Regions from separate parts of the Homo sapiens genome. Here all the other regions are linked to region 4. Evidence: fine-mapped expression QTL. A gene starts in region 4. Each other region holds a variant in brackets. All regions are shown on one strand. Distances are between the middles of the regions. Region 1 overlaps ZNF618 (zinc finger protein 618). Region 2 overlaps ZNF618 (zinc finger protein 618). Region 3 has its middle 94 kb from the start of ZNF618. Region 4 holds the start of ZNF618 (zinc finger protein 618).

Region 1 (7,993 bases), 30 kb before region 4:
ATCCTAGATAACACGGTGAAACCCCGTCTCTACTAAAAATACAATAATCAGCTGGGCATCGTGGCAGGTGCCTGTAATCCCAGCTACTCGGGAGGCTAAGACAGGAGAATCGTTTGAACCTGGGAGGCAGAGGTTGCAGTGAGCCGAGATTGCACCATTGTACTCTAGCCTGGGTGACTAGAGTGAAACTCCATCTCAAAAAAACAAAACAAAAACAATACTTGGAAAAAAGCTCAAAATGTCAAAAGTGTCAACATCTGAGTAGGGATCTCTAGGTGATTTTCTTTCTTCCTCATACTTTTCTGTGTTTTCTTTTTCTATAAAGAGCACTTGCTATTTGTTATAACAAAGAAAAACAAACTTGGTTTAATTGTGTTTTAAGACAGTGCTTAGAAAGCAGAAAGTTTCAGGCCGGGCGCGGTGGCTCACTCCTGTGATCCCAGCACTTTGGAAGGCCAAGGCAGGCGGATCACTTGAGGTCAGGAATTCAAGACCAGCCTGGCCAACATGGTGAACCTCCATCTCTACTAAAAATACAAAAAAAATTAGCCAGGCATAGTGGCAGGCACCTGTAATCCCAGCTACTCAGGGGGCTGAGGCAGGAGAATCACTTGGACCTGGGAGGCAGAGGCTGCAATGAGCTGAGATTGTGCCACTGCACTCCAGCCTAGTCGACAGAGCAAGACTCCATCTCAAAAAAAAAAAGAAAAAAAGAAAAAGCAGAAAGTTCCATGCTAACTTGGAATTCATTCAGATATGGGCTAGGCTGGGCTCTGAGCCTCTTGTCAGCTGGGACGGGAAGACGGGCCCTGAGCACAGGTGTGAAGGAAGGACAGGAGAGAGGATGGAGAAAAGGGCTTTCAGATGAACCACTTTAGGAAAGTGATATTGTCCCTGGTAGATAATTGGACAAATTACTGAAGTAAAAATGTAATGGTGGAAGAGGAAACAACCCTGAGGAGCCAGATCCAAGCGAAAGGAAAATAAATGCATGCCCATGAAGACGTCCTTCACAGCAGCCGCGCACACCTGAACACACCTGGCTGGCAGGAACACGCTCGTTATTAGGCCAATAATAAGTCACTGTTTCCAGGAACTTCTAAGCCCCGGAAGCTGATGCTGGGCTGCAGGTCCACCCCAGCTGGCTCGAGCTAAGTGGACTCGGCAGGAATCAATAATTACAGAGTGAAGAGCAGGAACCAGGTGAACAAACACAGACCTGGAATTAGAAGCTGGCTGGTCAGGAGGCTCCCCTACTTAGAGGCCAGAAATGGAGACTCATCCTGCACCCTACTCTCTTTCTGTGGTCTGGGAGGCCATGGCACCAACTGCCTCAGCAGGAGAGACAGCATGAGCAAAGTGGGGAGGTGGAAAATCAAGGTGTATCTAGGAGAGCCATTTAGTATAGCAGGGATAAGGGGCAGCCAGGCGGGGAGTGGTGAGTTCATAAAAATAGGCTAGGCTGGCCGCACTGGCTCATGCCTGTAATCCCAGCACTTCAGGAGGCCAAGGCGGGCAGATCCTGAGGTCAGGAGTTCGAGACCAGCCTGACCAACATGGTGAAATCCCATCTCTATTAAAAATACAAAAATTAGCCGAGCATAGTAACACACGCCTATAATCCCAGCTACTCGGGAGGCTGAGGCAGAAGAATCACTTGAACCCAGGAGGCAGAGGTTGCAGTGAGCTGAGACCGCGCCACCGCACTCCAGCCTGGGTGACAGAGCGAGACTCTGTCTCAAAAAAAAAAAAACAAACAAAAAAGGCTAGGCTGTGAGTATCGGGGAGCGGGATACAGCATGGGAGCATCCGCATGCAAGCACCAGAGGCCAGGAGGCGCTGGACTCGGGAGAAAGGAATGAACATTTCCACCCTGTGGAGCCACCACCCATCCCCAAGCAAGCCCAGGCCCTGAGACGGTGGCACCTTCAAGCTTGGGCTAGCAAGTCCCAGGGAGGAAAGCAAGTCACCACCCTCATTCCCCTCTCCCCAAACCTCAGTGGGCATCACATGACACCCCAAGGTTTCTGGACAGCTGCCCACTGAGCCCTGACAGACCCAAGTTTCCCTAAACAAATCTCAGGAAAAGTCCATCTGCAGCCTCGTAGCACATACAGAGCGCAGCCATGGTCTGAAGCCACCTGATTTTTCCCCTTCCTTATCCACATCTGTGGTCAAAGTCCCAGTCACGATACTCCACCCAGACCCAGGGGGACAGGGACACACAAGGCCTCTAGCCCCCAACCACCAAGCAAGAGCCACAAGTCCCAGAATGACCTGAGCTGCAGGTATCAGGCCGGGACATGCCTCGATCTTCCATTAGCATCACTGCATACAACTGCAACAGGCGACAGGACCATTCCCTCCAACCCATTCCTTTTCCAAATGAGGCACCTCAAGCTCAGAGAGAGAGAGAGTGTCCTTGCTCAGGTCCCACAGCAGCCGAGGGGCAGAGCTGCGCCTCGAACCCCAGACTCCTGGCTCCTATCCCAGCTCAGCAATGACTTGGCCACTAAGGGATTCACCGGCTTTGGGGTATAAATGGCGACTGACCCAGGAACTTACTGAAGCCCCATAGGAGACTAAAAAGGAGGACTAAAACAGAGTCATGAAATCACCGTCCCCAGAAGGGGCCCAAGCAGAGGCAGGAAAGATGATCATTTAGCAAGAATGGCACTTCAGAGATTGAAGGGCAAGACCTGTTTCTTGGAGGGTGAGGGTGGCTGGGGTATGAATGGCCTTGACATTCCATCCTTATTATGGTATCTTGTGATTCTGTGATCCTCACTCCCCAGTGAGGCAGAAGCAGAGCCTGAGAAGGGGCAAGAGATAACTCTGCACAGCGGTCTTCAAACTGGGTTCCTCCAGCTGCCTGAGGGGCCAACCAGAGAGGGGCCAAGCAGATAGGAACCTGCTGCCTCGGGGCTGACTTCCCCATCAGACACAGCACCCAGGGCCCGAGAAACTTTTAGAGACCCACAAAAATGCTTTCATTCCTTTTAAAATCAGAACTTAAAAGATGAACTTTCAGGTCAAAAAAAAATGTATAACATAGAATATTAATATATTCATGTCTACACCAATGCAGTCATACAAAATAATTTTTAATATTTTTGTATGGAGGAAGGAGCCCACGAAGACAAAAGTGCCTAAGGCCCACAAAAGTCATAATATGGTCCTCCCTCCTCCATTTTTTTAAACTGCTTTTATCTATGTATTTAACATCCTGAGCACCTGTGTGAGATTGCATTTATGAAAGAGTTCTTTAGCTAAAAAGGCTTTTGAAATCTCGTAGTGGGTAAAGATGATGTTTTTCTCTATAAATGTTAGGGTCTTAACTTACGAACAAGTGAAATGTGCTGTTACATCAGTCACTGAACTTTCCCAAGCCAAAGGCTCAAGACATGAAGATTCTTTTGACTGCCCGAGCCTCCCAGTTCTCAGGAGCCATCCTGCTGAGGCTCTGGGTGTCACTGTTTCATGGAAATGCAGGCACACTGTGCGTCATCCTTGTTTTTAACATTCCTCCCAATTTAAGTCTTGAGACCCACAAAGCACTAGATGGAAAATAATCATGCTGACCTCTTGAGAAAGGGATCCCACACTGCAGACTCAAGCTCTCACAGTGACACCCCCATGATTCTGAAGGGGGCAGCTCTCATGGGAAGGAGGGGAATCCTAAAATCAGGATAAATCAAACAACCCCATCGGAAGGAAAGAGAGTCCTTGAAAGAAAACCCCAGCTCATTTGAGGACAGTCATCTAACTGTGGCTCTCAACCTTCCGTGTGGAAGCATTGCCTGGGGAGTTGGTTAGACATTCAACTGTACCTCCCAGCGATGCAGAAACACCAGTCTACAGGTGGCCCCAGGGGCCTCTCATGCGGGGGGGTCCTGGACAACCCTCTGGAAAGCGCTTGCCTACTCATGATGAAAGAGGTGGTGTGGAGGTGTCCTCAGCCTGCTGGGCCTGGGTTTCTTGGTTCTGATTATTGGATAAGGATTCAGCAAAAGGGAACAAGATCCAGGAAGCCTCATTGCCTGGGAAAGTCCCTGCCCGGGGTGGCAAGAGAACAGTGAACGGCCAGCAAGTGGGAGGGCAGAATGCCACTGTCAAGCCAGGCGAGGAAAAAACTCACCAGGGCAGGGGCCAAGCAGACCTGTGAACACCATGAACAATTGGAGCTGCAAGGGCCAGAGTGGGTGAGCTTGCTCTAGAGGCCAAAGGGGATACAGTGGACAGTTTTGTTTCTGCCTCCTCAGCATCCCATCTTACAGTACAGAACTATCTCATCCCTTCAGGTCCCCACAACCTAAGTGGTGTCAATGGGCTATCCCCAGCCCCCAACTCCAACAAGAGAATCAAATAACCCAGGGCCATCCAATAATAACAACACACCATCCTCGCACTGTGATCGGCTTAGGGATGAGCCTATGGCCCTCATTGGGCCAATGAGAGCCTTCCTTGGGACTTCCGTTAAAGCCCTTGGAAAAGAGATGCTCTCTTTCCTCCAGGACTACTCCACTGGGGGTGAAAAATAAGCATGGTGCTGCTACAGCCATTTCTGCCACCACTTGGAGAGGGCCTGCCTGAAGAAGTCACCACAAGGAAACAAGAGCTGAGAGATGGAGAAGAGCACATTTCCGATGACATCATCTGCATATGTGGGCCAGCCATGCCTAAAATTGGCTAACCCCTGGACTTTTCAGTAGGCATGCCAATACACGTCCCCTTTTGGATTAAGCAAGTTTGAG[A/C]TGAGTTTCTGTCACTTAAAACCTAAGGCGTCCTGACTATAATGGATGGTTTGTTGTATAAACTGGCAGGTTTGGTTTAAAGGCAGAAAGAATCCTCACTTTGCTAGGAATTAGCTGCTTAACCTTAAGCAAACCACACCAGCTCTCTCAGTTTCCATTTCATCTCAAACTCTCTAGCTTGTGGTGCAGAATTAAATTACATCACAATGACTCCACGGAGCACTTGGAACATTATGTGGCATTTGTAGGTTCAGTAGATGTCAGGAAAGAAAGCAGCAGTCTAAAGGAAGCCTCCTCCCCAGCCACCCCCACTTGCTAAGGAAATAACAGTCCTACATGATGGCAGTGACTAAAACGACCCTACAACCTGACTATAGCATGGAAGAGCGAAATGCCCATCAGAAACCCTAAGCCAAAGGAGGAACAGCCAGGAGAAGCCCTTTCTTCAGAGCCATAACCTCTGGCATCTTCCCAGCACTTTATGGAGCTCAAAGCAGTTTCATATTCATCATCTATCCCCACAACCCCTGCTAAGAGAATGAGACCCTCAGAAATATAAAACAGCGCAGCCTTGACAAGGGCCAATTTGGTAATATCTTTGAAATGCACAGAGTCTATGACCCCACAATGCCTCTTCTGGTATGCTATCTTCCAAAACTACTCTCATCAATGCAAAATAATACTGATACAAGAAGCACTGGTGGCTTCTAGTCATGACGGAGTAAGAAGGACCAGATTCACCACCCACCTTAAACAACTAAGAAACTGATCGAAATATATCAAACAATGATTTTTAGACACTGGATAACAGGCAACACTGGGCAAAACACCCTAAGAGAGGGAAGCAAACAAGGTGGGTCCTACGATTGTCCCATCTTGCTGCCTGGAGAATGATCAAGCTGCAGGGCAGGGAGGGGAAAACCAAGCAGAGCTCAGAGGTCTCCTGAAGTTGAGGAGGTATGAGTTTAGACTTTGGGAAGAGCAAGGAAGGTGAAACATGCAAGGGAGGGAATCAGAGAAGAGAATCATGCGGAGAATGAGCTGCAATTCTTCAACGGCTTCACCCAAGTGCTGATCAGCGCATGTGTATAAGGAAAGCACCTGAGGCTGGAGAAAGAACCAAGCAGAACCATTCTCAGAGCTCATCCAGGGCTACGAACAGTTCACACTCCCAATAGCCAAAGTGGAGAAATTTCACTTTGACTGTAGACTCCTGGTCTACAGGCTTTTCTATAAAGGGTCACAAAATAAATATTTTAGGTTTTATGGATTGTTGTGGAATGGAAGCAGCCACGGACAGTACACAAAAATGAGCATATCTGTGTTCCAATAAAATTTTATTTACAAAAACAGAAGGCAAGCCTGATTTGCCCCATATTTGGCCTGTAGTTTGCCAAACCCTGCTCTATTCTGAAGGTTGCTCTGGTCTTGCTGAACAAGGCTGAATAGCAAGCCTCAAAGATCAAACAGGCACTTTGGGAGGCAAAGGCAGATCACTTGAGTCAGGAGTTCAAGACCAGCCTGGCTAACATGGTGAAACCCCATCTCTACTAAAAATAAAAAATTAGCCAGGTGTGAGGGCGTGTGCCTCCAATAGGAGGCTGAGGCACAAGAATCGCTTGAACCAGGAGGCAGAGGTTACGGTAAGCCAAGACTATGCCACTGCACTCCAGCCTGGGTGACAGAGCGAGGCAGTCTTGGAAAAAAAAAATCAAACGGTTTCCAAGTAATTTAATGACTGTGATAGGCAGAATAATAGAATAATGCCCTCCCTGTACCCAACAAAGACATGTGCGTCCTAATCCCCAGAACTGTGAAGGTGTTAGGCTACAAGCAGATGCAATTAAGCTTGCTAATCAGATGACTTTGAGATAGAGAGATTATGCTGGATGGTTGGAGTGGGCTCAAGGCAAGGGTCCTTCTAAGTGGAAGAGGGAGGCAGAAGAGAGAGAGCCAGAGAGATGGGCAACGTGAGAAGAACTCTGCCCAATGTTGCTAGCTTTGAAGATGAAGAAGCCATGGGCCAAAGAGTGTAGGTAGCCTCTAAAGGTTGGAAAGGGAAACAGATTCTCCCCTAGGGCTTCTAGAACCTCGGCTGACACCTTGATTTTAATCCAGTGAGGCCCATTTCAGATTTCTGATCTCCAGAATTACAAGACAATAAATTTGTGTTGTTTTAGGCAACTAAGTGTGTGATAATTTGTTAGAGCAGTCAAAGGAAACAAATACAGCTAAGACTTCACCAATAACAGAGCAAAACACAGCACAAAAATACTTAAACCCCAAAACTGCCAGCACTAAAACAATCAGGAATGTAAAATTCAGAATCAAAATTCAGAATCAAAAATTGCTAGGCATGAAAGCAGCAGAAAAATTAACAGGAAGAGATACAAAAATGACATATGATAGACTTTATGGATGTTGAAACAGCCATCATAAATATACTCCATATGTCCAGGAAGGTAGAGGAAAAAAAACATAATCACCTTATAGGGACACAGGAGATATAAAAAGACCCAAACCAAACTTCTAGAGATGAAAAATACAATGCCTGGGATTAAAAAAATACACTGGGTAGTATTAAGAATAGGTTAGAAAAAAAAAAAGAAGAGGTTAGATATTAAAGAAGAAAAGATTGATGAACTTGAAGACAGCAATAATTATTAACAATGAAACAGAAAAATAAAAGATGGAAAAAATAGGGCATCAATGAGCTATGGGACAGATTCAAAAGGCTTAATATACATGCAATTGGAATCCTTGGAAAAAAAAAAAAAAGGAGGGGTGAAGAAGGGGAGAAGAGAAAGATATTTGAAGAAATAATGGCCGAAAGTTTTCTAGTTTGGTGTGAACCCAGAAGCTCAATAAATCCCAAGCAGAAGAAACAGACACATCATTAATCAAACTGCTTAAAATGAGAGATAAGGAGAAAATCCTAAAAGTAGTAAGAAAAAAATTTTGAAGACATTACACACAGAGGAACAAAGAATAACAGCCAACTTTCCATCAGAAACAAGCCAGGAAACAGTGAAGCAACATCTTTAAAGTACTGAAAGAAAGAAAGAAACAAACAAAAAACCCTGTCAACCTCGAATTCTATAGCTAGCAAAAATATCTTTCAAAAACAAAAGCAAAATAAAGACGTACAAAACCAAAAGGAATTCATCAGCAGCAGACCTACATAGGAAGCACTGGTTCTCCGGTTATAACAGCCAGAAAACTGGGAATATCAAAATACC
Region 2 (7,993 bases), 22 kb before region 4:
TTACTCAGTTCAGGTCAGGAGTTCAAGACCAGCCTCCATTCCTTTTGCTTCTTTCAAATATTCTCTATTTCATTCTATCCTAAATTCCACACCTGGGTACACATCATAAAAAAGGCCTCCCAGGGGTCCATGTGGAAACATGTACAAGGATGTTCATTGCAGTTTTATTTGGGGTGAGGGGGGACAGTTAAGGCAAATGAGAAGTACACAAGCTAAGGAATTCATCACCAGCAGCCCTACACCACAAGCAGCACTGGTTCTCCAGTTATAATAGCCAGAAAACTAGGAACACCAAAACACCCATCAGAAAGGGGACTGGTTATATAAACTATGGTAGTTCCTTACAATGGGATACTGGGCGTTGATTAAAATGCTCGGAGGTGAATAGGTAAAATGTGGTGGCTGCACCAAGCAGCTGGAAGTAATGTGGACAGATCTCAAAAACAGAGCAGAGGCACAAAAGTGAGAAACAGAATGAGATTCAAACACTGTATTATTTATGTAAATTTTTAAAGCATGCACACAAAACAATAGTGCATGTCTCTAAAAACACATAAACAAAAAGATGCATGTTAAATACATTAGAATAAGCGGCTTGGAGGTAGGGGAGGAGCAGAGAAGTTGGAGAAAATGGGGATAAAAACTAAACAAAGCTAGAAAGGACCCTACACAAGCAAAGATAGCCACACACCCTAAACTGAGCAAAATTAACTTGTGGCACATGACTTTTAAAAGGGAGGGAAAGAAAACAGGTAGCATCTGAGTTCTTACTATGTGCTGAGTGTTTACATGTATTAATTCATTTAATCTTCATAACTAACTCCACATGGGGTTCTCTGAACCAGCCCCTGACCCTGCAATTTACAAAGACGAAACAGAGAGGTTTAGCAAACTGCTCAGAGCCACACAGGGAGGAAGGAGCAGAGGCAAGACTTGAATCCAGGCTGGCGAACTCCGGTGTCTGCACTCTCCACCCTCACGTAGGCAGCTTCTGATTGTTCTTACCCTACTTAGCTGAGAAAATGGAAGCACTGCCATTTCTTCTCAGAATCACAGAAAGTCAGAAAGAGAGTCTGTATTGCACTGCATTGGACCCCTTTATGCAGATGCAAAAACAGGCCCAAAAAGGCATGAAGAGGCACCTCAAGGCCACAGATGCTCAGCGCGATGTCCCCCCCACTGCGACACACTTAGTATCCCAGCTTCAAGACCAGTTAGACACGCAGAGGAAAAACAAAACAAAACAGAAATAGTCCGGAGAACAGGAGTTTGGAATAAAAGACTCAGAGGATTAGGGACCAAGGAGGCAGCAGGAGAGAGAACAAAACTTGCTTGCAGGTTTGGGACCCAGCCACCAGGCCACTTAAGAAGCTGTAAGCCTTAGTTCAGCCACGAAGCAGTGGCGTTTATGAGCTACGAGACCCCGTGATAACCCTGTCCCCTGGCTGGAGCTTCCACTCAGCTAGAATGGGGACTCTGGCCAGGGAACAAGGTCTTTTGCTGGGCCCGGGTTTAGCATGTCCCGGAAAAGCCCATGAGGCCCTGGCACGGGCGCTGATGTATCAGCTAATGTCTCGTTCAAGTTGTCAGCATTTTGTTAGAGCCAATTCAGTGGGTAATTAAGAAAAAAGTTGAGACCAGATGGGGAAGCAGATGCTAGCTCAGCCGCAAGAGCAGTTCCCTGCAAGTGTCTGGCAAAGCACCGGGCTGGCCAAGTCCGCACAGAGAAGGGCGAGAGCAACAGCTGCCTAGACAGGAGACGGGGCAAGGAGATGCCCGTTTTAAATGTTGGAGACGCTGAGGCCCAACGACGCAGGAGAACTTGAGGAAAAGGAGAGATTCTGCCCTGAGGAGAACTGGAGACAAAGTTTAGACCCTCAAGTGCAACAAACGCTCTCTCGCAGCAGCGGGAGAGGACAGTGCTAGGAGACAGGAGCTCGGGTTCGCGGGAGAAGACGGTGCTAGGAGACAGGAGGTCGGGTTTGCGGGAGAGGACGGTGCTAGGAGACAGGAGGTCGGGTTAGCGCGAGAGGACGGTGCTAGGAGACAGGAGGTCGGGTTAGCGCGAGAGGACGGTGCTAGGAGACAGGAGGTCGGGTTTGCGGGAGAGGACGGTGCTAGGAGACAGGAGGTCGGGTTCGCGGGAGAGGACGGTGCTAGGAGACAGGAGGTCGGGTTAGCGCGAGAGGACGGTGCTAGGAGACAGGAGGTCGGGTTTGCGGGAGAGGACGGTGCTAGGAGACAGGAGGTCGGGTTTGCGGGAGAGGACGGTGCTAGGAGACAGGAGGTCGGGTTTGCGGGAGAGGACGGTGCTAGGAGACAGGAGGTCGGGTTTGCGCGAGAGGACGGTGCTAGGAGACAGGAGGTCGGGTTTGCGGGAGAGGACGGTGCTAGGAGACAGCAGGTCGGGTTTGCGGGAGAGGACGGTGCTAGGAGACGGGAGCTCGGGTTCGCGGGAGAGGACGGTGCTAGGAGACGGGAGCTCGGGTTCGCGGGAGAGGACGGTGCTAGGAGACAGGAGCTCGGGTTCTGGCCTCAGCTCTGCCAGGTTCTCTTGGGTTGCTGCCTCACCTCAAAGAAGTCACTTTTCCCCTTCCTCTCTGTGCCTGTTTACTCATCTGTAAGATGAAGGAAAGAATCCCTGTACAGCCCACCCAAAGTAGTGATGAGGTTAACTACTGTGCAAAAAACTGTTAGGGTTAATCGCATTTAAAAGTGGCAGTTTGTCGGCCAGGCATGGTGGCTCACGCCTGTAATCCCAGCACTTTGGGAGGCCGAGGTGGGCAGATCACTTGAAGTCAGGAGTTCGAGAGCAGCCTGGCCAACGTGTTAAAACCCCATCTCTACCAAAAATACAAAAATTAGCCAGGTGTGCTGGTGCACACCTGTAGTTCCAGCCAGCTACTCAGCAAGCTGAGGCACGAGAATCACTTGAACCTGGGAGGCAGAGGTTGCAGTGAGCCGAGATAACACCACTGCACTCCAACCTGGGCAACACAGCAAGACTCGGTCTCAAAAAATAAAAAAATAAAAATAGAAATGGCAGTTTGTCAAAAAATTAAATGCAGAATTACCATATGATCCAGCAATTCCATTTCTAGGTACATACCAAAAAAAAATGAATGCAGAGTCTCAAAGAGCTGTTTGTCCACCCATGTTCATAGCAACATCATTCATAACAGCCAAAAGGTGGAAGCAACTGATATATCCATTAATAGACAAATGAATAAACAAAATGTGGTAGGTACATATGACAGTATTATTCAACCCTTAACAAAGAGGGAACCTGCCATGTGCTACAACACAGATGCACCTTGAGGACATTATGCTGAGTGAAACGAGCCAGCCACAAAAACACAAATGCTGTGTAAGTCCACTTCTATGAGGTACCTAGAGTCATCTAAGTCAGCGGTCCCCAGCCTTTTGGTACCAGGGACCAGTTACTTAGAAGACAGTTTTTCCATGGACAGAGGTGGGGGGAGTGATGGTTTCAGGATGGAACTGTCCCACCTCAGATCACCAGGCATTAGATTCTCCTAAGGAGCGCAACCAAGATCCCTCGTGTGCACAATTCACAATAGGGTTCGCGCTCCTATGAGAATCTAACGGTGTTGCTGATCTGCCAGGAGGCAGAGCTCAGGTAATGCTGGCTTACCTCCTGCTATACAGCCCAGTTCCCAACAGGCCACGGAC[C/G]TGTACTGGTCTGCAGCCTGGAGGCTGGGGACCCCTGATCTAAGTCACACAGACAGAAAGTGGAATGGAGGCTACCAGGGACTGGGGGAAGGGGAAATGGGGAGTGGCTGTTTAATGGGCATAGAGTTTCAGCCTGGAATAATGAGAAGAGTTCTGGAGATTGGTAGCCCAACAATGTGAATGTACTTCATATTACTGAACTGTACTTTAAAATGGTTAAGATGGTAAATTTAATATGTGTACTTTACAAAAAAAAAAACTAGGGAAAAAAGGTCTTAAAATCTAGAAAAGGAGTCATGCACAAGCCACCTACTGAGGAATTTCCGCTAGATGTTACAGATGTGGGGACAAATCACGGGACATCATGAGGGACCATCTCACAGCCACCCTCCTGGAGACTCTGAGGCAGGCTGGTAAGAGGAAAACCAAGGTGACAGGACCTACAGGGAATGCCAAGAGAAGCTAAGCTACTTCCAGCTAGGGCTTTCAAACCCACCCCACAATCCTACCAGGAAAGAATCTTGAGCATAAACCACTGGGCACTTCCCAGCGCAGCTTCACCAAGCCAAAGGAAAGAACCACATATTGAGGTAACTACAGTCTCAGCCTCACCTCATTAACCCCGGGCTGCTGCATCGCTGATCTATAAATGTGTAACATCTAGCCCTCCTCTTTCCACTCAAGGTTTGAGGAAGCAGTCCCAGCTATTCCAGAGGCTGAGGCAGAAGGATTGCTTGAGGCCAGGAGTTTGAGACCAGCCTGGGCAACATAGCAAGACCCCGCCTCTACAAAAAATTTAAAAATTAGCTGGGCATGGTGGTGCACACCTGTAGTCCCAGCTCCTCAGGAGGCTGAGGCAGGAGGATTGCTTGTGCCCAGGAGTTCAAGGCTGCAGGGAGATATGATCCAGGCTGGGTGACAAGGCAAGACCCCATCTCTTAAAAAAAAAAAAAAAAAACGAAAAATCTGAGGAAGCAGCTACTGACATCATTTTAGGATATAGACCAGGCCAAGCCAAACATGCCAAACACGAGACTTCCCTTATTTTGAATGAATAAATGAGGCAAACAGGGGGAGGGCGAAGGAAACAAAATGGAGTGACAAAAATAGAGTTAAGCATCATGCTCAAGATTGAGAGAAGAAACATACAGAGCACAGTGTTACTCTGGAAAACAGAAAGACATCTAAGACACACTCCTTTGTGTGCTCAGTAAAATTAAAGACAAGAACAGAGTGAAACAGAAAGAGAAGCTCTAGGAATGAAAAGTGCAAGGAATCAAATAACACCATTAAACCAGTTAAGAGGCCAGGCACAGTGGCTCACGCCTGTAATGCCAGCACTTTGGGAGGCTGAGGCGGGTGGATCATCTGAGGTCAGGAGTTCAAGACCAGCCTGCCCAACATGGAAAAATCCTGTCTTTACTAAAAATACAAAAATTAGCTGGGCATGGTGGTGGGCACCTGTAATCCCAGCTACTCGGGAGGCTAATCAGGAGAATTGCTTGAACCTGGGAGGCAGAGGTTGCAGTGAGCCGAGATCGTGCCACCACACTCCAGCCAGCCTGGGCAACAAGGCAAGACTCCGTCTCAAAACAAAACAAAACAAAACAAAAAACGAAATCCAGTATCCAAAGCAGTAAAGGGCAGAACTGTCAGTGCAGAAAACCGAGTAAGTGATGCAAAGGAAAAGCTGGGGAAACACATATAAAACTAAAAAAAATTTAAAGAGATTAAAATAACCAAAAGTAAAGATAATTACGGAAGGCAAACAATAGGGGTATATGGATATATAGAGATAACTACCATTTTAAAAAGATGAGACCAATGGGACATATGGAACAAAACATTTCCTATTATTAAGAAAGAAATCTGTAGACTGAAAGTACATGCCATGTTCCCAGCAACTAATTAAAAGGCATTAAAACATAGAGGCTGGAATAAGCCTCAAATTTCAAGGGTGAAAAAAGAGTGATACAGGCATTCAGGAAGGCTGGGGATGGGAACAGAATTAAGCACAAAAGCAAAATATCGTGTATCCTCGAAATTATCTTCTAAAATATTAATAACATAAGACTACAGAACATCTCTTGAGTACTGAAGGATAAAATGCATAACCCAAAAATGTTATATTTATCCAAACTGCCATTCATATATGAAGGAATCAAAAACATCTTCTTAGTTGTACTAGTACATAGGGGGAAAAACTGTAATTAGATGAAACAAAACACATCAGTTATGATAATAAATATAAACGGGGGTAAGTTCCATATTAAAAAACACAGATCTCAAGACTCTGAGTTTTTAAGTATAAGAAAGCATGATATCCAAAAGAAATACATAGTAGCTATTTTTTAAGTACACAGAACAAGCAAAAGTAAAATAAACATGTAAATCTATACAAGGTAAATTCCAACAATAGAAAGCAGGAAGTGCTTTCATAAAAATCTCTAGAATTAAAGGTAAAAGCAGGAAATGAACTATAAAAATTAGAAAATCCAGAACTGAAAGTAGAAAGCATAAAACAGGTCAAGGAGGGCCTATTTTTACAGATTAAGGGTACAACCCATAATAAAATGTAGCAGGCAGGTATACTTCTGTTAAATGACCTAGTAATAAAATACATAAAGTAAAACATATAAAGCAAATGGTAAAATCAAAAGAAATATTATAATATTAGAAGACATTAACAGGCTCTCAATTTCTTGAAATAATTAGAAAAACTTAATAATATATCTAAGGCCCTATGGGGAATCTGAAAAATACAATTAATAAAGTCAATGATATATAAAAGTGGCTTATGTAATGTGTGAATACAAGCAAAAAATAAATCCTAAAAACAGAAATTACTTCTTTCGCAAGCAGATGAAACATTTCCACAAATTAATATTTAAAAGGAATCCAAAAATTTCAATAAATTACAAAAAGCAAAAACTATTATTGGTAATGTTTCTCATAACAGAATAAACTAAAAATGAATAAAAATAAGCACTTATTGAAAAGGAGTAACACAGAAATTTAAATTATACTTTTAAATAATCGTTAGGCTACACTTACACATCTGTAAGTGACCAAAGATGTACTCAGAGGAAAATTCATTGATTAACCCAGCACTTTTATTACTAAACAGAAAAATAAAGAGCCAAGCTTTCACTCAAGAATTTTTAAAAATCTAAAGAAAGCAGAACGGTGGGCTTACTTACCATAAAAGTATAATAACTTGGAAGTAGTTAGAATTGACAAGTAACTTTAAAAATTTAAGGGGGAAAGAATAAAACAATAGAAATCAACAAAATACTCCCTGAATACCAGTCATTCAACCAAGGAATAAAGAAAAAAAATAATACAACTACAAAAAAAATCAGTTTAGGAAATAGAACCATACAGAGGACATTCTTAAAATAACATTATATTCTGTTCTATGCAAATACAGTTCAAATTCTTGATGAAATGAATACATTTCTCAGAAAATATAAATGGTCAAAACGGGCATGAAAAGAGCAAAAGCCAAAATGTTATTGAAGAAAGGATTACAGTAGAAAATAATTATCTCCAAAAACCTGACAAGACAGAGTTTAATGGCAAGTTATTTTAAACTCTGAAAAGATAATTCCCGTGCAATATAAATCATTCCAAGCAGGGACTACAAATAAACATCTGGCATGCACACTTAAACCCTCATTTCCTACACTCTTACAAAACACTAAATTGTTTACACATGACAAGGCCTCAGAATCCTTCTCAACACAGCAATCTCAGCGACCACTACCAATAAGTACATAATCTTAAATGTATTTATCCTCCATGTTTCAGATCACTGGAAAGCTTTCTAATTTATAACCCCTATACTAGCATAACCCCCTTAAAAAATGACAAAAACAGCACACTAAAAATAAAACTGCAGGGCAATCTCACTAATGGATATAGACACAAAACGCTGCAAATTGGACCCAGGATGCATTAAAAGAATAAAAACACCATAAACAAAATGGGTTCCTTCCAGGATAGTTTAATATTAGAAAATCTATTAATATAATTCATCACATCGGCAGATCAAAGGGAAAAAACCATATGGCCATCTGGGTACATAATAAAAAGGCATTTGTTAAAAATTCATCATCCTTTTACCCCCTCTTATTACTAAATAGCTTTATAGTGGGGGAGGGGAATGATTCAACCTCCATTGCAAAAGAAAAATTCAAATACAGAAAATTGAAAATCACTCCTCTATCGTATCACTCACCTCCATCTTCACAAATTTTAAAAATAAAAAACTCTTAGCAACTCAGAAGGATGCTTAGTG
Region 3 (7,993 bases), 95 kb after region 4:
GTGGGTGACTGGGCCCTTCTTGCCTTTGGCTGACATGGCAGATTGGCTCATCTAAGCCAAGGGAGAGGCCGGAAATAACAAGTCTGAGTAGGCAGTGGGTGTCCACGTTCCCCTCCTCCTCTTTCTCTTCTTTCTCTGCTTCCTTTTCTTCTCCCTCTTCCTTTTCCTCCACCTCCTCCTTTTCTTCCTCCTCTTCCTTCTCCTTTTTTTTCCTCCTCCTCCTCACCATCATAGCTGCTGCCATTCATTTAGCCCTTACATGTGCCAGGCATGGAACTGAGTGTTTTGCCTACATCACGTCCCAAAATCCTCCTGATAGGCCCAGTGAGCTGGGTGCTTGCATTTAAATCTCCATTTTAGAGATAAATAGTCCCAGAGAGTTTCAGTGAGTTGCAAAAGGCACAGAACTATTAGGCTGAGCCAGGCTTCTCACCGCCTATCTGGCACCAGGCCTGCGTTTCTGCTGTGCCATGCAGCCTGGAGTGGGGAAGAGCTTGGGCCTTGAGGCAGATGGCCAAGTGTGGGAGCTGGTTCTGCGGGTGCAGCCGTGGGACACTGGGAAGGTTACCTAATGCCCTGTGCCTCTGGTTCCCTGTAAAATGAAGATGATCATAGTTCCCCCACTCTTAGGGATGAGGTGAGGATTGAATGGGTTCATATCATGAACGGTACTCAGAGCAGTGCCTGGCATATACTAAGAGCTATACCAATGTTTCCTGCCCTTGTTTCCTCCCTTCGCTGCCTCTAACTAGCAGCCACACCCCACAAACTTGCATAATGCACCCCACTTGACAAATACTTCTTCGTCACACTGATTCCTTCAACCCTGAATCCCTAGACAACCCATTTTTCAGACAAGGAAATTGATGTTGACCCAGAGATGTTGGTGGATGTTGTCAGTTTCAGAGCTCTAATTGGAAGGTAGCAAAACTAGGGGTGAAGGGCACAGCCCTTGGATCATACAGACCTAGGCAGGAATTGTGGCTCTGGCCCATTTGTGGTAGGACCAAGGGCTTGAAACTCTAGTTCTCTGACCTTTAATATATTATTTTAAATGAAAAAAGAGGAAAGATACAGCCCATTCCATAGGATTGTTCTTTCCCTGGGCCTGGCACTGGGCTAAAAGATTTACCAGCATTTTTGGACTTCATCTTACACGTGTGGCGTGCCACAGTGGCCGGGTGCATGGTGCTCAGCAAATCGCCGTGGTTACCACTCTCTGTCTCAATGGTCCTCCCTGCCTGCCCCACGTCTCTGGTGCTCTGAAGAGTGGCTCACTCTGTCTGCCTGCTTGCTTCTTTGGGCCCTGCCTTCTGTTTAAGCTTCTTGTCTCTACCCAACCAATACCTTGCCCCACACTACTCCTCCCCAGAAACTAAAAGTTACTCTAGCTTCCTGATCCAGTGTTGCTCCTTCTCTTCCTCTTACTCAGCCCTTTGGACATGGCCCTTGAGCATTCTTTGTTTTGAAGTCTGCTGTCCTCCTGGACACTGCCTTCCCTTCCCCTTTGTTTGGTGCTCTGTTCCCTGTGCAAGGAGGGAATTGTCTTCCTGCAGTTTGCTTAGGTGAGGTGGGGGTGGGAGGTGAGGGTCAACAGGGACATTTATGAGCCTACTGAGCCTCTGAGGATTGAGGGAGGAGGCTTCATAAATCACTCCCAGACTTAGCACTCCTCCAGTGTGATATGGGGTCCTGTTCACCTCTGTCCCCAGTACCCCTCTCAGAACCAGTGCACAATAGGTGTACAGAATATTTGCCAAGCCTTCAGGTAAGCCTGGATCCAGAACCCCCAGCATGATTCCCACAGCTGTTAATCTTCCCAAACAACATCCTGCTCTGAACTCAGGGGATGTGATTTGTAGAATTGAAAGCATACATTGGAGTAATTTCAGGATGCGGCTGTTCTGCGTATTTGTGTTAGTCAGAGCTGCCTGGTGGGGATGGGACTGATGTTAATCCACTGATCATGCAATCTGAGCAACAGCTTATGGAGAAACATCCAGATTCTTTGACACCCATGAAGACTCTTCTCCATGCTCTCAGTCATCCATGAAAATTGAGAGGCAATTGTGGGAAAAGCTACCAAGATGGATTTGGAATAGTCCCCAGAGCAGTGTTGATCCAGGGGCATTGCCCCTAACTCTGGGTGAATAACAAGTATACCCAGCTTTCCATCTGTCTGTCCGTCCATCCATCCATCCATCCACATCTATCCACCCATTCATCTGTCCATCTGTTTATCTGTTCATCCATCTGCCCATCTACCTGTCCATCCATCCACTCACTCAATCATCCATCATCCATCTATTCATCTATCCATCCATCTCCCTATTCATCTATTTATCTGTTTACCCATCTACTCATCTACCTATCCATCCACCCACTGAAACAACCAGCCATCTCTCATCCATCCAATCAACCCATCCACCCATCCATCCACCCATTCATGCATCCATCTATCCAACCATAGAACGGATGATGGCTCAGCCATATTCCTTGCTTGCCACCATACATTGGCCTTAATGCTTCAGAAATACCCCTGGATTAGTCAGCTCCGCTGCCATAACAGCATACCATAGACTGGGTTGCTAAACAACAGAAATGTGTTTTCTTACATTTCTGGAGGCTGGAAGTTCAAGATCAAGATCAGGGTACCAGAATGGTTCTGATGAGGGCTTTCTTTCTAGCTTGCACATGTCTACCTTCTGGCTGCGTGCTCACATGGTCTTTCTTTGGTGGGTGTACATGGAGACAGAAAGAGAGAGATGAAGATCTCTCTCTCTCTCTCTTCTTATAGGGCCACTAATCCTACTGCATTAGAGCCCTACCCTTATGACCTTAATTACCTCCTAAAATTCCTATTTCTAAATTCAGTCACATTGGGGATTAGGGCTTCAAAGTATGAATTTGGTGGGGGGTGGGGGAACATAAATCAGTCTATAGCAACCCTCAAGGACAGGAGCATCTTACTGTGTCCTCTCTTCCCACACCGATATCCTACCAACAAACAAATGGAAAATACCTGTTAGTCCACTATTTGGCTTTCCAATACTCACAGGTGGGAGTAAGAAATGCAGGATGGAATATTTGGAGTTGCAGATATGGATTTGATTCCAGGCCCTGTCACTTAGCTAGGTGAGGAATGGCACTTAATCTCCAAGAGCCTCAGTTTCCCCACCTGTAAAATGGAGATAATTACAGAACATACTTCATAAGATGAGATCCTCCACAGGAAGTACACAGCACAGTTTCTGGAACACAGTAAGTGTTTAAAAAATGGTAAAGCTGACTATTAGGAGGGCCAGGGCCAGGAAAGAGCATTTCAGAAAGTAAGAGGCAAATTAATTACGGTGCTTAAGGGTGGGCTTTAGAGCCAGTCTGTCAGTGTTTAAATACAGGCTCTGCCTCTTCTTAGCTGAAAGACCTTGCGCTTGTGCCTCAGTTTCCTCATCTGGAAAAATAGAGCTAATAATGGTAGCTGTGTCATGGGGTTGTTATGACTTAATGCCTGGAACATAGTAAAAATAAAAGATATTGACTATGGTTATTTGAGAACCAAGACACTGTGACTAATCTCTGGGGTCAATGGTTTTCTCCTTAGGTACACTTGGTTAATTTAGAAAAAAAAAATTTATTAACTTACACCGCTTGCTGGTGTGAGAGATGGGTCACTAGCTGAGGTCAAGGCCCATGTGTCCATGTCTTCTCTCTCTCCCCACTTCACCCTGGGCAAGCTCTGGCCAGAGCAGGGGCACAGGCCCCAGCAAAGATCCCCCATAAGTCCCCTAGATTCTGCCCGTCAGCGGCCCAGGCCTCAGTGGGAAAATACGATCGGAGAGACTGCATGCTGTTCCCCCTTTTTAATTACTGCTTCCTTAATTG[A/C]GTCACAAGTGGTGTTTGTGTTGCCATCAAACCCACGAGGACCTCGTTGTTTATGTGAATGACTCTCAGTGGAGTGACAGCTCTGAAATGTGAGATGTTCTGTTTGTACCAACTTTAACAAAGTGGCTACAGATTTCCTTCTTAATGCATGGTCTGGGAGCTAATAAAAGGGACTGGTGTTTCCTTTGCAAAGAATGACATGAAATATAGAATGGAACTCTAGTGTCACGGGACCTGGAGCCATGGGACGTTGGAGACACAGAGGGCCTCCCATCTGCTGCTCTGAAGCTCCTAGGGGCGGTGAACCTTGTATCTTATAAGGCAGCTCATTCTGTGATGAGACCACTGGCTATTGGGAAAATGTTCCTTGTATCTGAAGCTCCACTCTCCATTTCACTGATGCTAGCTGAGTCCTCTGGAGTAGTCATCTGGAGAGGTGGCTGGAATGGGAGAGAGTAGGAGGGGCTGTGACACACTGAGACTTCAGGCTGTCTACCATTTGGCCAACATAGGTAAATAGCTGTATAGCAGGACCTTCCTGGGGGCCAGGGCTTGTGCCGGCGGTGACACAGAGGACAAGACAAAGTTCCAAAGAGGCTTTGTCCTTGAGCTATTAGCACCCAAGTTGGAAGGGCCACCTGCATAGAGCAACAGGAGTTTCACTCAAGAGAACCAAAAGCCAAGACTGGTGGAAACCAGGAAGGGATGCTGTCAAGGAAGGCTTCCTGAAGGAGGAGGGTTCACATGAGCTGGGCCCAGAGGAAAGAGCATAATGTGGAAGGATGGGAGGAGTAGGAACAGAGAGAACAGATATCTCCTGACCTCAGTGGGTCAAATGCAGCCACAGCCCGGCCACTCTCCTCTCATGCACCTCCCCTAAGACCCAGCCAGGCACAAGCCCAGGAGGAGGCTGTGTCTGGGGCGCTTCCCTGTTATTTATTTATTTTTTCAGTTTATGGAAAAGTAATTCAGGAGACATTATTTCAATCAGACCCCTACGCAGTTTAGGAATGCTAATACTTCCTCTATTTAAAAGGTGTGGAATAATTAGGATGCTGATGAAGACCGAGGCAAACCATTTTCTAGTGCTCCACGCTTTTCCCATCCCTTCCGTATCCCCAGTGACAAATTAACACATAAAAGAACGACGGCTGCTAACACTTAGGGCACATTTAGCTCAGATTGGAAGCTAGGTTTTTAAGTACAGGAAGGTTTTCATGGCTCAACCTTGGAACCATTTGGGAACGCAGAAAGGAGCCAAAGAAAAAGAGTGTGGGCAGCGTGCGGAATGTTCAGGGGAGGCCTGGGGCAGGGCGGGTGGTGGAGGGCAGTGGAACCAGTGCTGGATTCAGGGAAGAGGTCTGGGGTTTAATGCTGTGGACTTGCGGTGTGACCTGGGGATGCCCCAGCCTCCTATCTGGGGACAGCAAAAGAGTGAGACTCATTGGATGGGAAGAAAAGAAGGAGAACTTCAAAAAACATAAAAATAATAGTAAAGAATCTTCACTGAACAATTTTGAGCCAGATACTATTCAGAGGGTTTTGTTTGCATAAATTCGTTTAACCCTCCAAATAATTGCCCTGGGGTGGGTATTATTTTTATTCCCATTTTAAAGATGAAGAAATTGAGGCACAGAGCAGGTAAGTGACCTAATAGGTTGCGGAAGAGAAATTTGAACTCAAACATAAATAACGATGCCTGATGATGTTGGAGCCAGAATTGTGAAGGCACAGGGATTGTTCCAGGGTGGAGAGTGCGGGCTCAGCCTACGAAGGGCCTTAAGACACAGTTGCTATGGGCGCAATTGTGTCCCTCCGCAAAAGATGTTGAAGTTCTGTGCCCCACCCCCAGTACCTGTGAATATGACCTTATTTGGAAATAGGGTCTTTGAAAATCATCAAGTTAAAATAACATTAGACTGGATGTGGTGGCTCATGCCTGTAATCTCATGCTTTGGGAGGCTGAGGTGGGAGGACTGCTTGAGCCCAGGAATTTGAGACCAGCCTGGGCAACATAGGGAGACTTCGTCTTTACAAAAAATAAATTAAAAAAAAAAATTAACAGGGAGGCTGAGGCAGGAAGATTGCTTGAGCCTCAGAGTTCCAGTGAGCTATGATTGGGCCACTGTACTTCAGCCTGGGCAACGTAGCAAGACCTTGACTCTACAAAAAATTTTTAAAATTAGCTGAGCATTGTGGTACACACTTGTAGTCCCAGCTAGTTGGGAGACTGAGGCGGGAGGATCACTTGAGCCCAGGAGTTCAAGGCTGCAGTGAGCTATGATCGTGCCATTGCAGAGTGAGACCCAGTCTCTTAAAAACAAAAAAAAAACATGAGGTTATTAGGGCAGGCCCTAATCCGATATGACTGAGTCCTATGATGAGAAGGACACAGAGATAGACAAAGCTGAAGTGACAACATAGGGAGACTGCCATCTATAAGCCAAGGAATGCCTAAGGACTAGAAGAGAGATGGAGAATTGATCCTCCCAGCCTCAGAGCTGGATCCAGCTCTGCTGACACCCTGGTTTCAGACTCCAGAATGTGAGACCTTGAATTATCTGTTGTTTAAGCCACCCAGTTTGCGGGATTTTGCTGTAGCAAGAAACAAAGACAACAGGGAAAGGAGATGGGTCTCTGTGGCCTAGGCAATAGGGAGCTATTGCAGATTTTGGAGCAGGGGAATTACATGGTTCAGCATTTTAAAAGATCACTCTGGTCATCATGTGAATACACAGGGTCCTGGAGGACAGAAGAACTGTTACCATGTGTGAGATCATGTGACAACTGTCCAGGGGCTGTGTGGCGATGGTGGCAGGCAATTCCCTGCAATTGCCAACAGAAAAGGGACAGTGCCCCCCTTTTAGGGCTGCAAAGATAATGAAGTTAAATAACTTTATTCCCTAAATCAACTGCCCCCTTTCATCACTTCATACCCAGGGGAGACTGAAATGCTCTGAGTTAATATCTAAAAAGAAAAAAAAAACAGAATTCAAGGATCAAACAACTTTTTTGATGAGGGAAGTGTTATTTCTACTCAGCCAAGACATCAAAGCCTGTGAATCGTGCTTTTTAGGTAATATTAAAGTGGGCTCTAAATAAGGCTTGAATATTTCTTTGCTTTTCCCAGGGATCACAGTCACCTTTCCTAGAGAAAGAACACCAGTGATGTCCCCAGCCAGCCTCCGCTCCAGGAGGACCTGCAGGATCTTCAGGGAACACAGCACTTGTGTAAATATGGCTTACATTTCTTTTTGCATTTAGCAGCCTAAGCATTAAAATTCATTGTTCTGGACATAACATGCATTTCTGTAGATTAAATTGGCTAAAAGCCTGACAGACAATTCAACTATGTTTCAGACATTTCTACTCACACAGATGGCCCTTGTGTCAAGAGATATATCTACATTATGGCAAAGTCACCTAACCAATGAGTTTCTGAAAAGCAAATTCCATTTACTCGTTGATCTCAATTATTTCTAATTAGATACTTTTTTGACTCTACTTGTAATAGTTAGCTTTTGCTGCATAACAAACCACCCCAAAACCAGTGACTGAAAACAAGAATTATTTTGTTATTGTTCCAGAGTCTCTGGGTCAACCAGATAGTTCTACAGTCAGGTAGTGGGTCAGCTGGGGGCTGAGAGGTCTGGGATGGCCTCACTCACATATTGGCTAGAGTGAGTGGGAGAATCTGTCATTTGGCTCTCCCCATATCAAGGAGGCTAGATCAGACTCGCTCACATGGTCAGTTTCAGGGTTCCCAAGCGTCCTTTCTAAGCCTCTGCTTGTGCCACATTTGCCAAGGCCTCAGTGACCAATTCAAATGACTGCACCCAAAGCCCCCAGGGGAGAGACTCTACCTCTAGATGAGAGGCGAGTTAACGTCATGTTGCAAATGCATACGATTTTAGGGATGGGAGGAATTTGGGGTCAATTTTGCAATCTACTATACTCTTCCTCCTCTTATAAGCACAAATAAAAGAGGCTAACATGGTTTAACATACTCTCTGTCAGGCACTGTGCTAGATTCGTTATGATGTATATCTCATGTAATCAAAGAAGTTATGTTACTTCCTCAAGTCACACAGCTATCCAATACTAGAGCCAA
Region 4 (7,993 bases):
GAAATTCTGGGATTTTTAAGGAAGTGCACACACACAAAAATACAGACTGTGTTTTTGTCTGATTAAATTAAATATAGCACAAACACAGACTCTCTAACTCCAGAAAAATTTCTCTGGCAATTTAAACTAAAAGTGGGGAACAAAAGACAAGGACTCCACACACTTTAGATCTCCTCTCCAGCAAGAAGACCTTGCAAAGACGCTGCCTTCAAACTTGTATCTGCCTTTCCATATGTCCTTCCAGACTCATCCAAGGCCAACAAGCTGGGGTATGTGCCTGGGCTGCCCATGTGGCTGAGCTTTCTTCATATGTGGCCCTTGAAGTGGGCTCAACCAGGGCTCAAAATATGTGGCACAGGACACCTAACCCACAGGGTTCACCTAAAAGTTAATTGAGATAATAAATGCAAAAATAAAGTATAAGCAATAAAGTGCAGTATACCTGCAGCACATCATGGCGGTTCAGCTAGTCCAGTACCTTTCAAACTCTTTTGGCCGTGACCCACAGGAGGAAATCTATTTCAAATCACACACATACATCCACAAATATAAATACAAGTTTCATGAGAGGATACTCACCTGTACCCTGTGGTATGCCTCTGCTATTTTTTGTTCCCCTATATTCTAGTCTATTCTTGTTTTTAAAAAATTCTGATTGTGATTCACTAAATTGACTTCACAGGCCACTAATGGCCCATGATTCAAGGTCTCGCCTGGGAATGGTAACTAAGAGGTACACTCTCCACTCTGATTTACAATGCTGTTTGGCCACTGCACCCCTCTCTCTAGAATATGGGAGTCGGGATATGGCCTCAGAATCCTTCTCAACACAGTGATCCAGGCAGCCATAACCAATTCCTTGGAGTTACAATCAGAAATGAAACCTATTTATTATTATCCTTGATCTGATCCCAAGTGTTCATTTTATAAATGCAAAAATTGAGGCTCTGAAGGAAAAAGTGATTTGTCCAAGGTCACACAGCAAGACCTTGTGGGGGCTAGGGCTCCTGAAAAGAGCCACTTCATTTTACATCACCAGAAAGAAGGTACAACTGACCCAAAACATCACAAGAACATGGAAAAAATTCAAAATTTCCTCATGACCATGAGAAGTCGGCTTATATACATCAGTCATATATGGCAAGGAAGTTCTTATCACCCACCAAGGAGAAGACGTAAGGATTCTGAGGTCAGAGGAAGCAGCATGCCAAGAGCTGAGTCAAAAGTGAGAAAAATATTGTATCTGACACTGGAGGAGTTTTAAAACCCAGTTTCTCAAGTGAAACAAGCCATTGGCTGTTTATTTTCTAGGACGAGGGAGAGGTCAGCCTTATACTGACCAGCCATCTTTGTTGCTTTCGTTCTGCAAAAGCAAGAACCCTTGTTCAAGTTCACCTCTGTGCAGAGCTGGAAGTATAAGCAAACCTCTTTTCCTAGCTTGCTCCAAAGTCAAACTATAAAGCAGGCCCTTGAAATTTCAAACCTTGTTAGAAAAAATTAAAAAAAAAAAAAAACCTCCTTAGGCAGAAAAGCAAAACATTAAGTAATAAGAGTCTCCACTGTGAAACTGAATATAAACGATCTTTCGCCAAAATAATTCAGCCCATCATCAAATTACCACCCCCAAGTCCAATTTGCCAGATATTTTGCCCAATAATCTACGAGAATGTGGTGAACAGACAGGAGCTAATAAAAATTAGCTCACATGTCCATTTCTGGTCACACGTCCACCTAAAATAGGAGGTGAGAGAGCCAAGGCCAAGGTCAGATCTCAATCCAGAGAGAGACACCAATAGAAACAAAAGAAAACTGGCCCCGCCCCCAATAGAACCATCATGCACCTCTACTTCCTTTACAACAAACATGATCAGAATAACCAATTTAAAAAAAAAAAAAAAACAGAAAAAAAAAAAAAACAGTTCTACAAAACCAGAAATGATTTTCAACTTCTAGCCATAGACAACAGAACAAAATTTCAGCAGAATGGAATGAAGGAAGCTGAATTGTGTGTCAGGAGATCCAGGCCACACAAAGGGACGTGCTGCAATATTTTTATTCCTTGCACCAGAAATAACCTGTTATCTACAACCCTGACTTTTTCTCAGATGCCCCTACCCCCCTCCACCCCTCCCCAGCCCATCTCTCCTTCATCACTGCTAAACTCAGGCCTTCTGCCTCATGAGGCCTCCAAAGCCCCTTGGAAATTATAAATTCCTTGACCGTCCTACTCATCGGCCTAAATAATTCAACAGAAAAAAATTTTTTTAATTATGCTACTTAAAAAAAAAAAAGCTCATTCCAAATATGTCAGAATGTGACCAGTCAGCCCTGAAGGATTTCGTTACTAAAAAAATAAAATCTCCCAAATGCAATGGCGATGATGGGAAATGTCAAACCTCTGCCATTGTCAAATATATTTCACAGAGATAATATATTTGACTTATTCCACTTAAACATCCAAATTTCCACAAAACAGGGTTGGGAATCTATGGACTGGGGCCACCAGTTTTCCCAAGACCAGCTAGTGGCTGGCAAAAGGAGCAAAGGGTTTCCTTTCTTGCCCCAGGTGACCCACCATCAATTTCCAATCCAAGGTCCCTCCAAGATCCCGCCCTGCAAGTCCTAACAATATGCTGTTTTTGGACAGAAAAATTGTAACTTTTGGGGGATAGGCTCAAAATCCCCAGCAAGTTCAATTAGATACTAATTTATCACAAAACGCTTCATCTTTGGGTGGGTACTTTATTCTCATCTGTCAAATTTCAATTCGGTCAATATTTATTTGCCTTCTTAAATTTTTTTTTCTTTTTTGTTTCACCTTCATGTGATTCATTTTAAGGCCAAAACCTCCACATGAAATATTGTTTGCATATATGCTTTCATATTCCAAAGGCAAACCTTGGGTTTGGCTTTTGTTTGTATTTTGATTATTTTTCCTTTATTTTGTTGCTGCTAAAACCAGCTGAGTTGGTGTTATATCACATTTCTTCAGCAAAGTAAGTGTTCTACCAAGGAAGATGGATAAGAATCAGAATTTTCATCTCCTTTTTGCCCATCCCTCTTTTATCTTTTTCTTGTTAAGTCAGTAAAATTTGTGCATTTTTTTTTTTTGGTCACAAACCCCCCAAAATGATCAAGGCTAATGGATTTTTCCCCCTTTGAAAGTAATCAGGTTTTTGAAAAATAACAAATATTGATAAACTACCAACCCCACATCACAATCAAAGAGGCCTGAAACCAATCTAAATTTTTTTTAAGTAATAAATTTTTCAAATTGGAAGGGTGAACAAGACAGAAAAGGGAAAATTTTCTTCCTTACCAAGGATTCCTCAATCCTTGTCTTCATCAATTGATTCAGTTGCATGTCATAAAAAATGAGCTTCTGTGAATCCACTGTTAGTTTTTTCATAATAATGTTAATTATGCATATCTTATTTTAATGGCGGTCTCTCCTACAAATCTGTGGGCTACTCAATTTGTATAATGTATGAATTTACATTTTTTCCACTTAATATTGCTCAAAAAAGGTTCCTGACATTTTCTGGATAAAACAACAACAAAAAAGAAATGCCTAGACCTTTCAGGAAACAAAATCAGAAAACAGTCTTAATTATTCCATCAAAACAAAAAAAACACACACACACACAAAACCCAACAAATACAGAAAAAAAGAAAGAAAGGATTTCACTGTAACTTTTCTAGTTTCTGTTTTCTTTAGAATCTTAGGATTTAAATGCAGTAAAATGTAAATGCAAAATTAAAAAAAAAAAACTACAATTTTTGGGTGTGTCCAAAGCCAACATTTTAGGTTCTATTTTCTCTTTTAAATCCTTCGTTCGTGGAAATAGAAAAACTTTAAATATTGCCATATAGAGAAATTAGTCTTTTTTTGCCCGCTGAGCTAAACAAGTTCCAAATTACAATGAAGTACAATTTCTAATTGCTTCATAAAGCCAATTCTCTCAGTTTTCCCTAAACTCAACAATTTCCCTCCTTTCTTTATTCCAATTAGTTTTTTTCTCAAACTAAAATGAGTTGGGTACCCAAACTGACTTTGCTTTTAGGAGGTTTTTTGCTTTCTCCCCTCCAAGAACTAAATTCATTCAAATTCCAGCTTAATTTTCATTTACATATTATCTGGATTTGGCTTCAGAAATAAAAATTGTCTCCATGCTTCTGGAAAGATCAAAGTGAAAATTTTCACCCGAAAAAAGAAAAAAAAAGAATCTCTTACCCCTCCACTGCCTGGTAGTGCAAACTTTTGAAAAAATAAGAAATAAAAAATATTTCTTTTCAATTTTAATTTCTTTTTTATTTACAAAATAGTATCCTCTAGGTGGCGTCGTTTTAATGGGAAAAAACTACCGTTTGAAGAAAAATTAGAAAAAAAAAATTGAGAAAGGAAAATATGGCCTAAAAAAAAAGATTGTTGCAAAAATGGGGGACCTGGGGGGAAAGACCTCCCGGGGGGTCATCGGGGACCCCGAGCGCAGAGAGGGTCAGGGGAAAATTGCAAATTTGGGGGGGAGGGGGCAGAGCTGGAAGGGGTTGCATTTTTGCAAAATGTGAATTGTCCAAACTGAAATGGCTGCTCTGTTCTCTCGCCGCTTTGTTTTCTGGGCTCCGGTCCGAGCCCGGGGCCGGAGGGGGCGCTGGGTGGGGGCCCCAAAAGACCCCCTCGTCACCCCCACCCTCCTCGCACCCCGCAGCGCCCGGGGGGGTGCTCTCCGGACCCCGACCCTCCCGATTGCGCCCACAAAAAGCCCGCAAACGTGCCCAGGCACTTTGCATTTTGCAAATCTTGCAATGAAGTGGCGCAGCGCCCCGGGCCCCGGCCCCCCGGGGTCCCCCGCGCGGTGCATGCCCCCGGCCCCCCGTCGTACCTGCGGAGCCGCCGCGCCGCCCGGCTGGTTCATGGGTCCGTGCGGGAGGAGGCGGCCCCGGCGCGTCCTGCTCCTCCCGGGCCGGGCTGCTGGTGCGCGCACAATGCCGCCGCCGCCGCCGCCGCCGCCGCCGCCGCTCCCTCCTCCGCCCGCCCCGCTCAGGCCGGGGGGGCGGGGGCGCTGGGGGCGCGCGGGGGGGGCGCCGGCCCTCGCCCCCACCCCCGGCCCGCACCGGCCGCGCCGCGGCAGCCGCTGCCGCCGAGCCGCCCCTCGCGGGGCCGCCGCCGCCCCCCGCCGCCCTGCCCGCCCCCGGGCCGGCCTCGCCGTGCGGCCCGCGAGCTCGGGGCCTCGGCCTCGGCCTCCGCGCTGCCGGCCTCCGCGTGGCACACAAAGCCGGCCGGTCCAGGGGCGCGCCCGCCCTCCCGTCCGCCAGCCCCAGTGCCGCGGCACACCCGCCCCCCCAAACTTTCCCGCGCCGCGCCCTGCCCTCCCCGCGCCCCCCGCGCCCGCTCCCCGGCTCCCTTCTGCCCTCCCCCAGTCCCCCAGCCCCTCGGAAATGTCATTTTCACGCTGGAAAAAAAGTTCAGGGAGCCGGCTCTCGGCGGAACGCAAGAGGTTAATGGGAACTCTGTACCCCGCTGTACCCCCCCGCCAAAAAAAAACCAGATTGATTTTTGAAATAAAAGTTTTCAAGAGCTGGCTTGCTGGAAGACTGGAAGGCTTATTGGGAATATTCTATTGCCCTGCCACTCCTCCCAAAAAAACTAATGTAATAAAATAAAAGTTTGAAGGACTGGCCCCATGTCCGACAAGAGTGGTTAAGGGGACTCTAGCCCCCCAGCCAGACTGATTTTTAAAATAAATACTTGAGGAGCCGCTTTTATGTGAAATGCCAGTGAAGCGGCTGTTTCTGCCTATCCTTGCCAAATTAAAATATATATATGTATTTCTAAATAAAAGTTTGAAAAACTGGTCCTACAGTAAGACAAGAGGGGTTAAAGGTTAAGGGATATTAGCGCCCCCCACCCCCATATCCCCCAGTTAGGTTGATTTAGAGAAGGAAAATTTGAGAAACTTGCATGTGAAATAAAACGTGAACCAGGATATTTCTTTCCAACACCCCAAAATAGCCAGTTTTTTTGTTGTTGTTATTGTTGTTTTTTTTTTTTTAACTTGAGCAACTGCCTCCTTGTGACTTGGGAAAGTTTAAAAGGGATTTTTTTTTCTATTCTCTTCCCTATTCTCCTAAAAAATCCGATTTTTTAAAAATTGAAAGTATGAAGGACCTGCCCTATTATAGAGACAAGGAGGGATTACTGGATCCATCCTACATCTCCCACAACTGGTTGATTTTTGGAATAAAAATGTTAAGAATTGCTCTTCTATGAGATGCAAGGTGAACAGAAATCCTTCTTTGCCCCTCCCCAAAAGAAAACTGCAAGGGTACTTTTCAAAAATAAAAGCATTGGAAATTAAGAGTAACCAGGTATCTTCTCTCTGCCCCCACCTTCAAAAATCAAATGTTCTTTTTTGTAATGTTTAAAGAACTGGAGCAATATGAGACAGGAAAGGTTACAGAAATGTTTTCCCTACAATCCTCAAAAAAGTTATTTTTAAAATTTTAGGAAACGGAGGCACTGTGTAGAAGACACCTCCTTTCCCTAATAAGTTAAATTGGGAGTTTAGCCCTATATGGGAGACATGAAATTAAGAAACACAACTCTTGCCCCCCTTAACAAACACTCATAACACAAGACGTTAAAAGGAGTCTTCTGGCCGGGAGTGGTGGCTCACGCAAATAATCCTTTTGGGAGGCCAAGGCGGGTAGATCACGAGGTCAGGAATTGGAGACCAGCCTGGCCAACATAGTGAACCCCTTCTCCACTAAATATACAAAAATTAGCCAGGTGTGGTGGCACACACCAGCCAGTAGTCCCAGGTACTCAGGAGGCTGAGGCAGGAGAATTGCTTGAACCCGGGAGGCGGAGGTTGCAGTGAGCCGAGACCACGCCATTGCACTCCAGCCTGGGTGACAGAGTGGGACTCCGTCTCAAAAAAAAAAAAAAAAGAGGAGTCTTCTAACCACTTCCTCCCAGACCCCTAAAAGTTGGAGATTCCTTAAAAATTGAAATTGAAAGTGGCCATTTTTCTCCCCACCAACCTGGTAAGTATGTCCCTGCCAGAGGTTTGGCAGCCTCTGCCCAGGCTGGTGTGCAGCAGGCACCAAGGTGAGTAGGGGCAGCTTGCAGAGCATGGCAGAGTTGGGTCCTGTGAGCCCTGAGCATATGTGCTGGGCAGGCAGCCCCTAGTCCACCTGCCCCTCATCCACCAGGTGGTTGGGGCCTTGTTACCTGGAAAGATGCTCCCAGATTTGATGTCTGTCTGGCTCGATCCTTGTGTGAAGGTTTCTGGGCACCTGCCTCAAGGCCGGGTCCCCGCCTCTGCCTAGTAGAGCCAAGCCTGATCTTAGGCCTTAGAGTAGAAACTAGATCCAAAATGACATGGGGTCTCAGTCACCACAGCTGAAAGCTGTATGGTACCAAGGAAAAACTCCTGCCCTGGGAGTCGGGAAAACTTGATACGATAATTATTCATTTGAGCACTTACTATGTGCCAGGTGCCTTGTATCTAGTAGGACAGACACACACCATGAAGAGGAGAACTATTTGCAGCAGCTCTTCTCAAATGCAAGTGATCCTTGGAATCAGCAGGAGAGCCTATTCAGATTGCTGAGCCCACCCCAGAGTTTTGAATTCATTTGGTCTAGGTTAGGCACCAAGAGTTTGCATTTCTAATGCGTTTCCAGGTGATGCTGATGTTGCTGGTTTAAGGGCCACCTTCTTCAAACCTTTGCAGTACAGTGCCAACAGTGAGGTGCTCAGTGCAGCTCAAGGAAGGGTCCTACCCAGCCCGGGCGTGGGTCAGCGAAGATTCCAGGAGGGTCTTAATTAGATGGAAGTTTCTCTCTAGAGCAGGGATTCTTAAATGGGGACTTTGCATTGGTTTGGGGAACCAAGAACTACTCCTTAACCAAATGTATGTCTGTATGTGCATTTTGGGGGAGAAAATCTGTGGCTTTCACTCAAGAGCATCAGTGACCACCAACCTGA

Evidence for each region. PIP is the estimated chance that this variant, and not a neighbour inherited with it, causes the effect.
Region 1: its variant is the best candidate, but not a certain one, in a credible set for the expression of ZNF618 in esophagus mucosa (GTEx, PIP 0.72).
Region 2: its variant is the best candidate, but not a certain one, in a credible set for the expression of ZNF618 in whole blood (TOPMed, PIP 0.56).
Region 3: its variant is the best candidate, but not a certain one, in a credible set for the expression of ZNF618 in whole blood (TOPMed, PIP 0.68).

What each region holds. Positions count from the first base shown.
Region 1 is chr9:113,903,550-113,911,542 of GRCh38, reverse strand. All of the region lies in intron 1 of ZNF618 (zinc finger protein 618), which reads right to left. Among named protein-coding and RNA genes, the nearest start is that of ZNF618, 31 kb to the right of the region's middle. The variant A/C (reference allele first, on the strand shown) is at 4,755.
Region 2 is chr9:113,895,097-113,903,089 of GRCh38, reverse strand. All of the region lies in intron 1 of ZNF618 (zinc finger protein 618), which reads right to left. Among named protein-coding and RNA genes, the nearest start is that of ZNF618, 23 kb to the right of the region's middle. The variant C/G (reference allele first, on the strand shown) is at 3,694.
Region 3 is chr9:113,778,016-113,786,008 of GRCh38, reverse strand. No RefSeq gene overlaps it. Among named protein-coding and RNA genes, the nearest start is that of ZNF618, 94 kb to the left of the region's middle. The variant A/C (reference allele first, on the strand shown) is at 3,883.
Region 4 is chr9:113,873,304-113,881,296 of GRCh38, reverse strand. ZNF618 (zinc finger protein 618) reads right to left here and starts at 4,988. Exons shown (of 15, transcript NM_001318042.2): 1 at 4,884-4,988. The coding sequence starts at 4,916. RefSeq lists enhancers at 6,564-7,064, 7,065-7,565.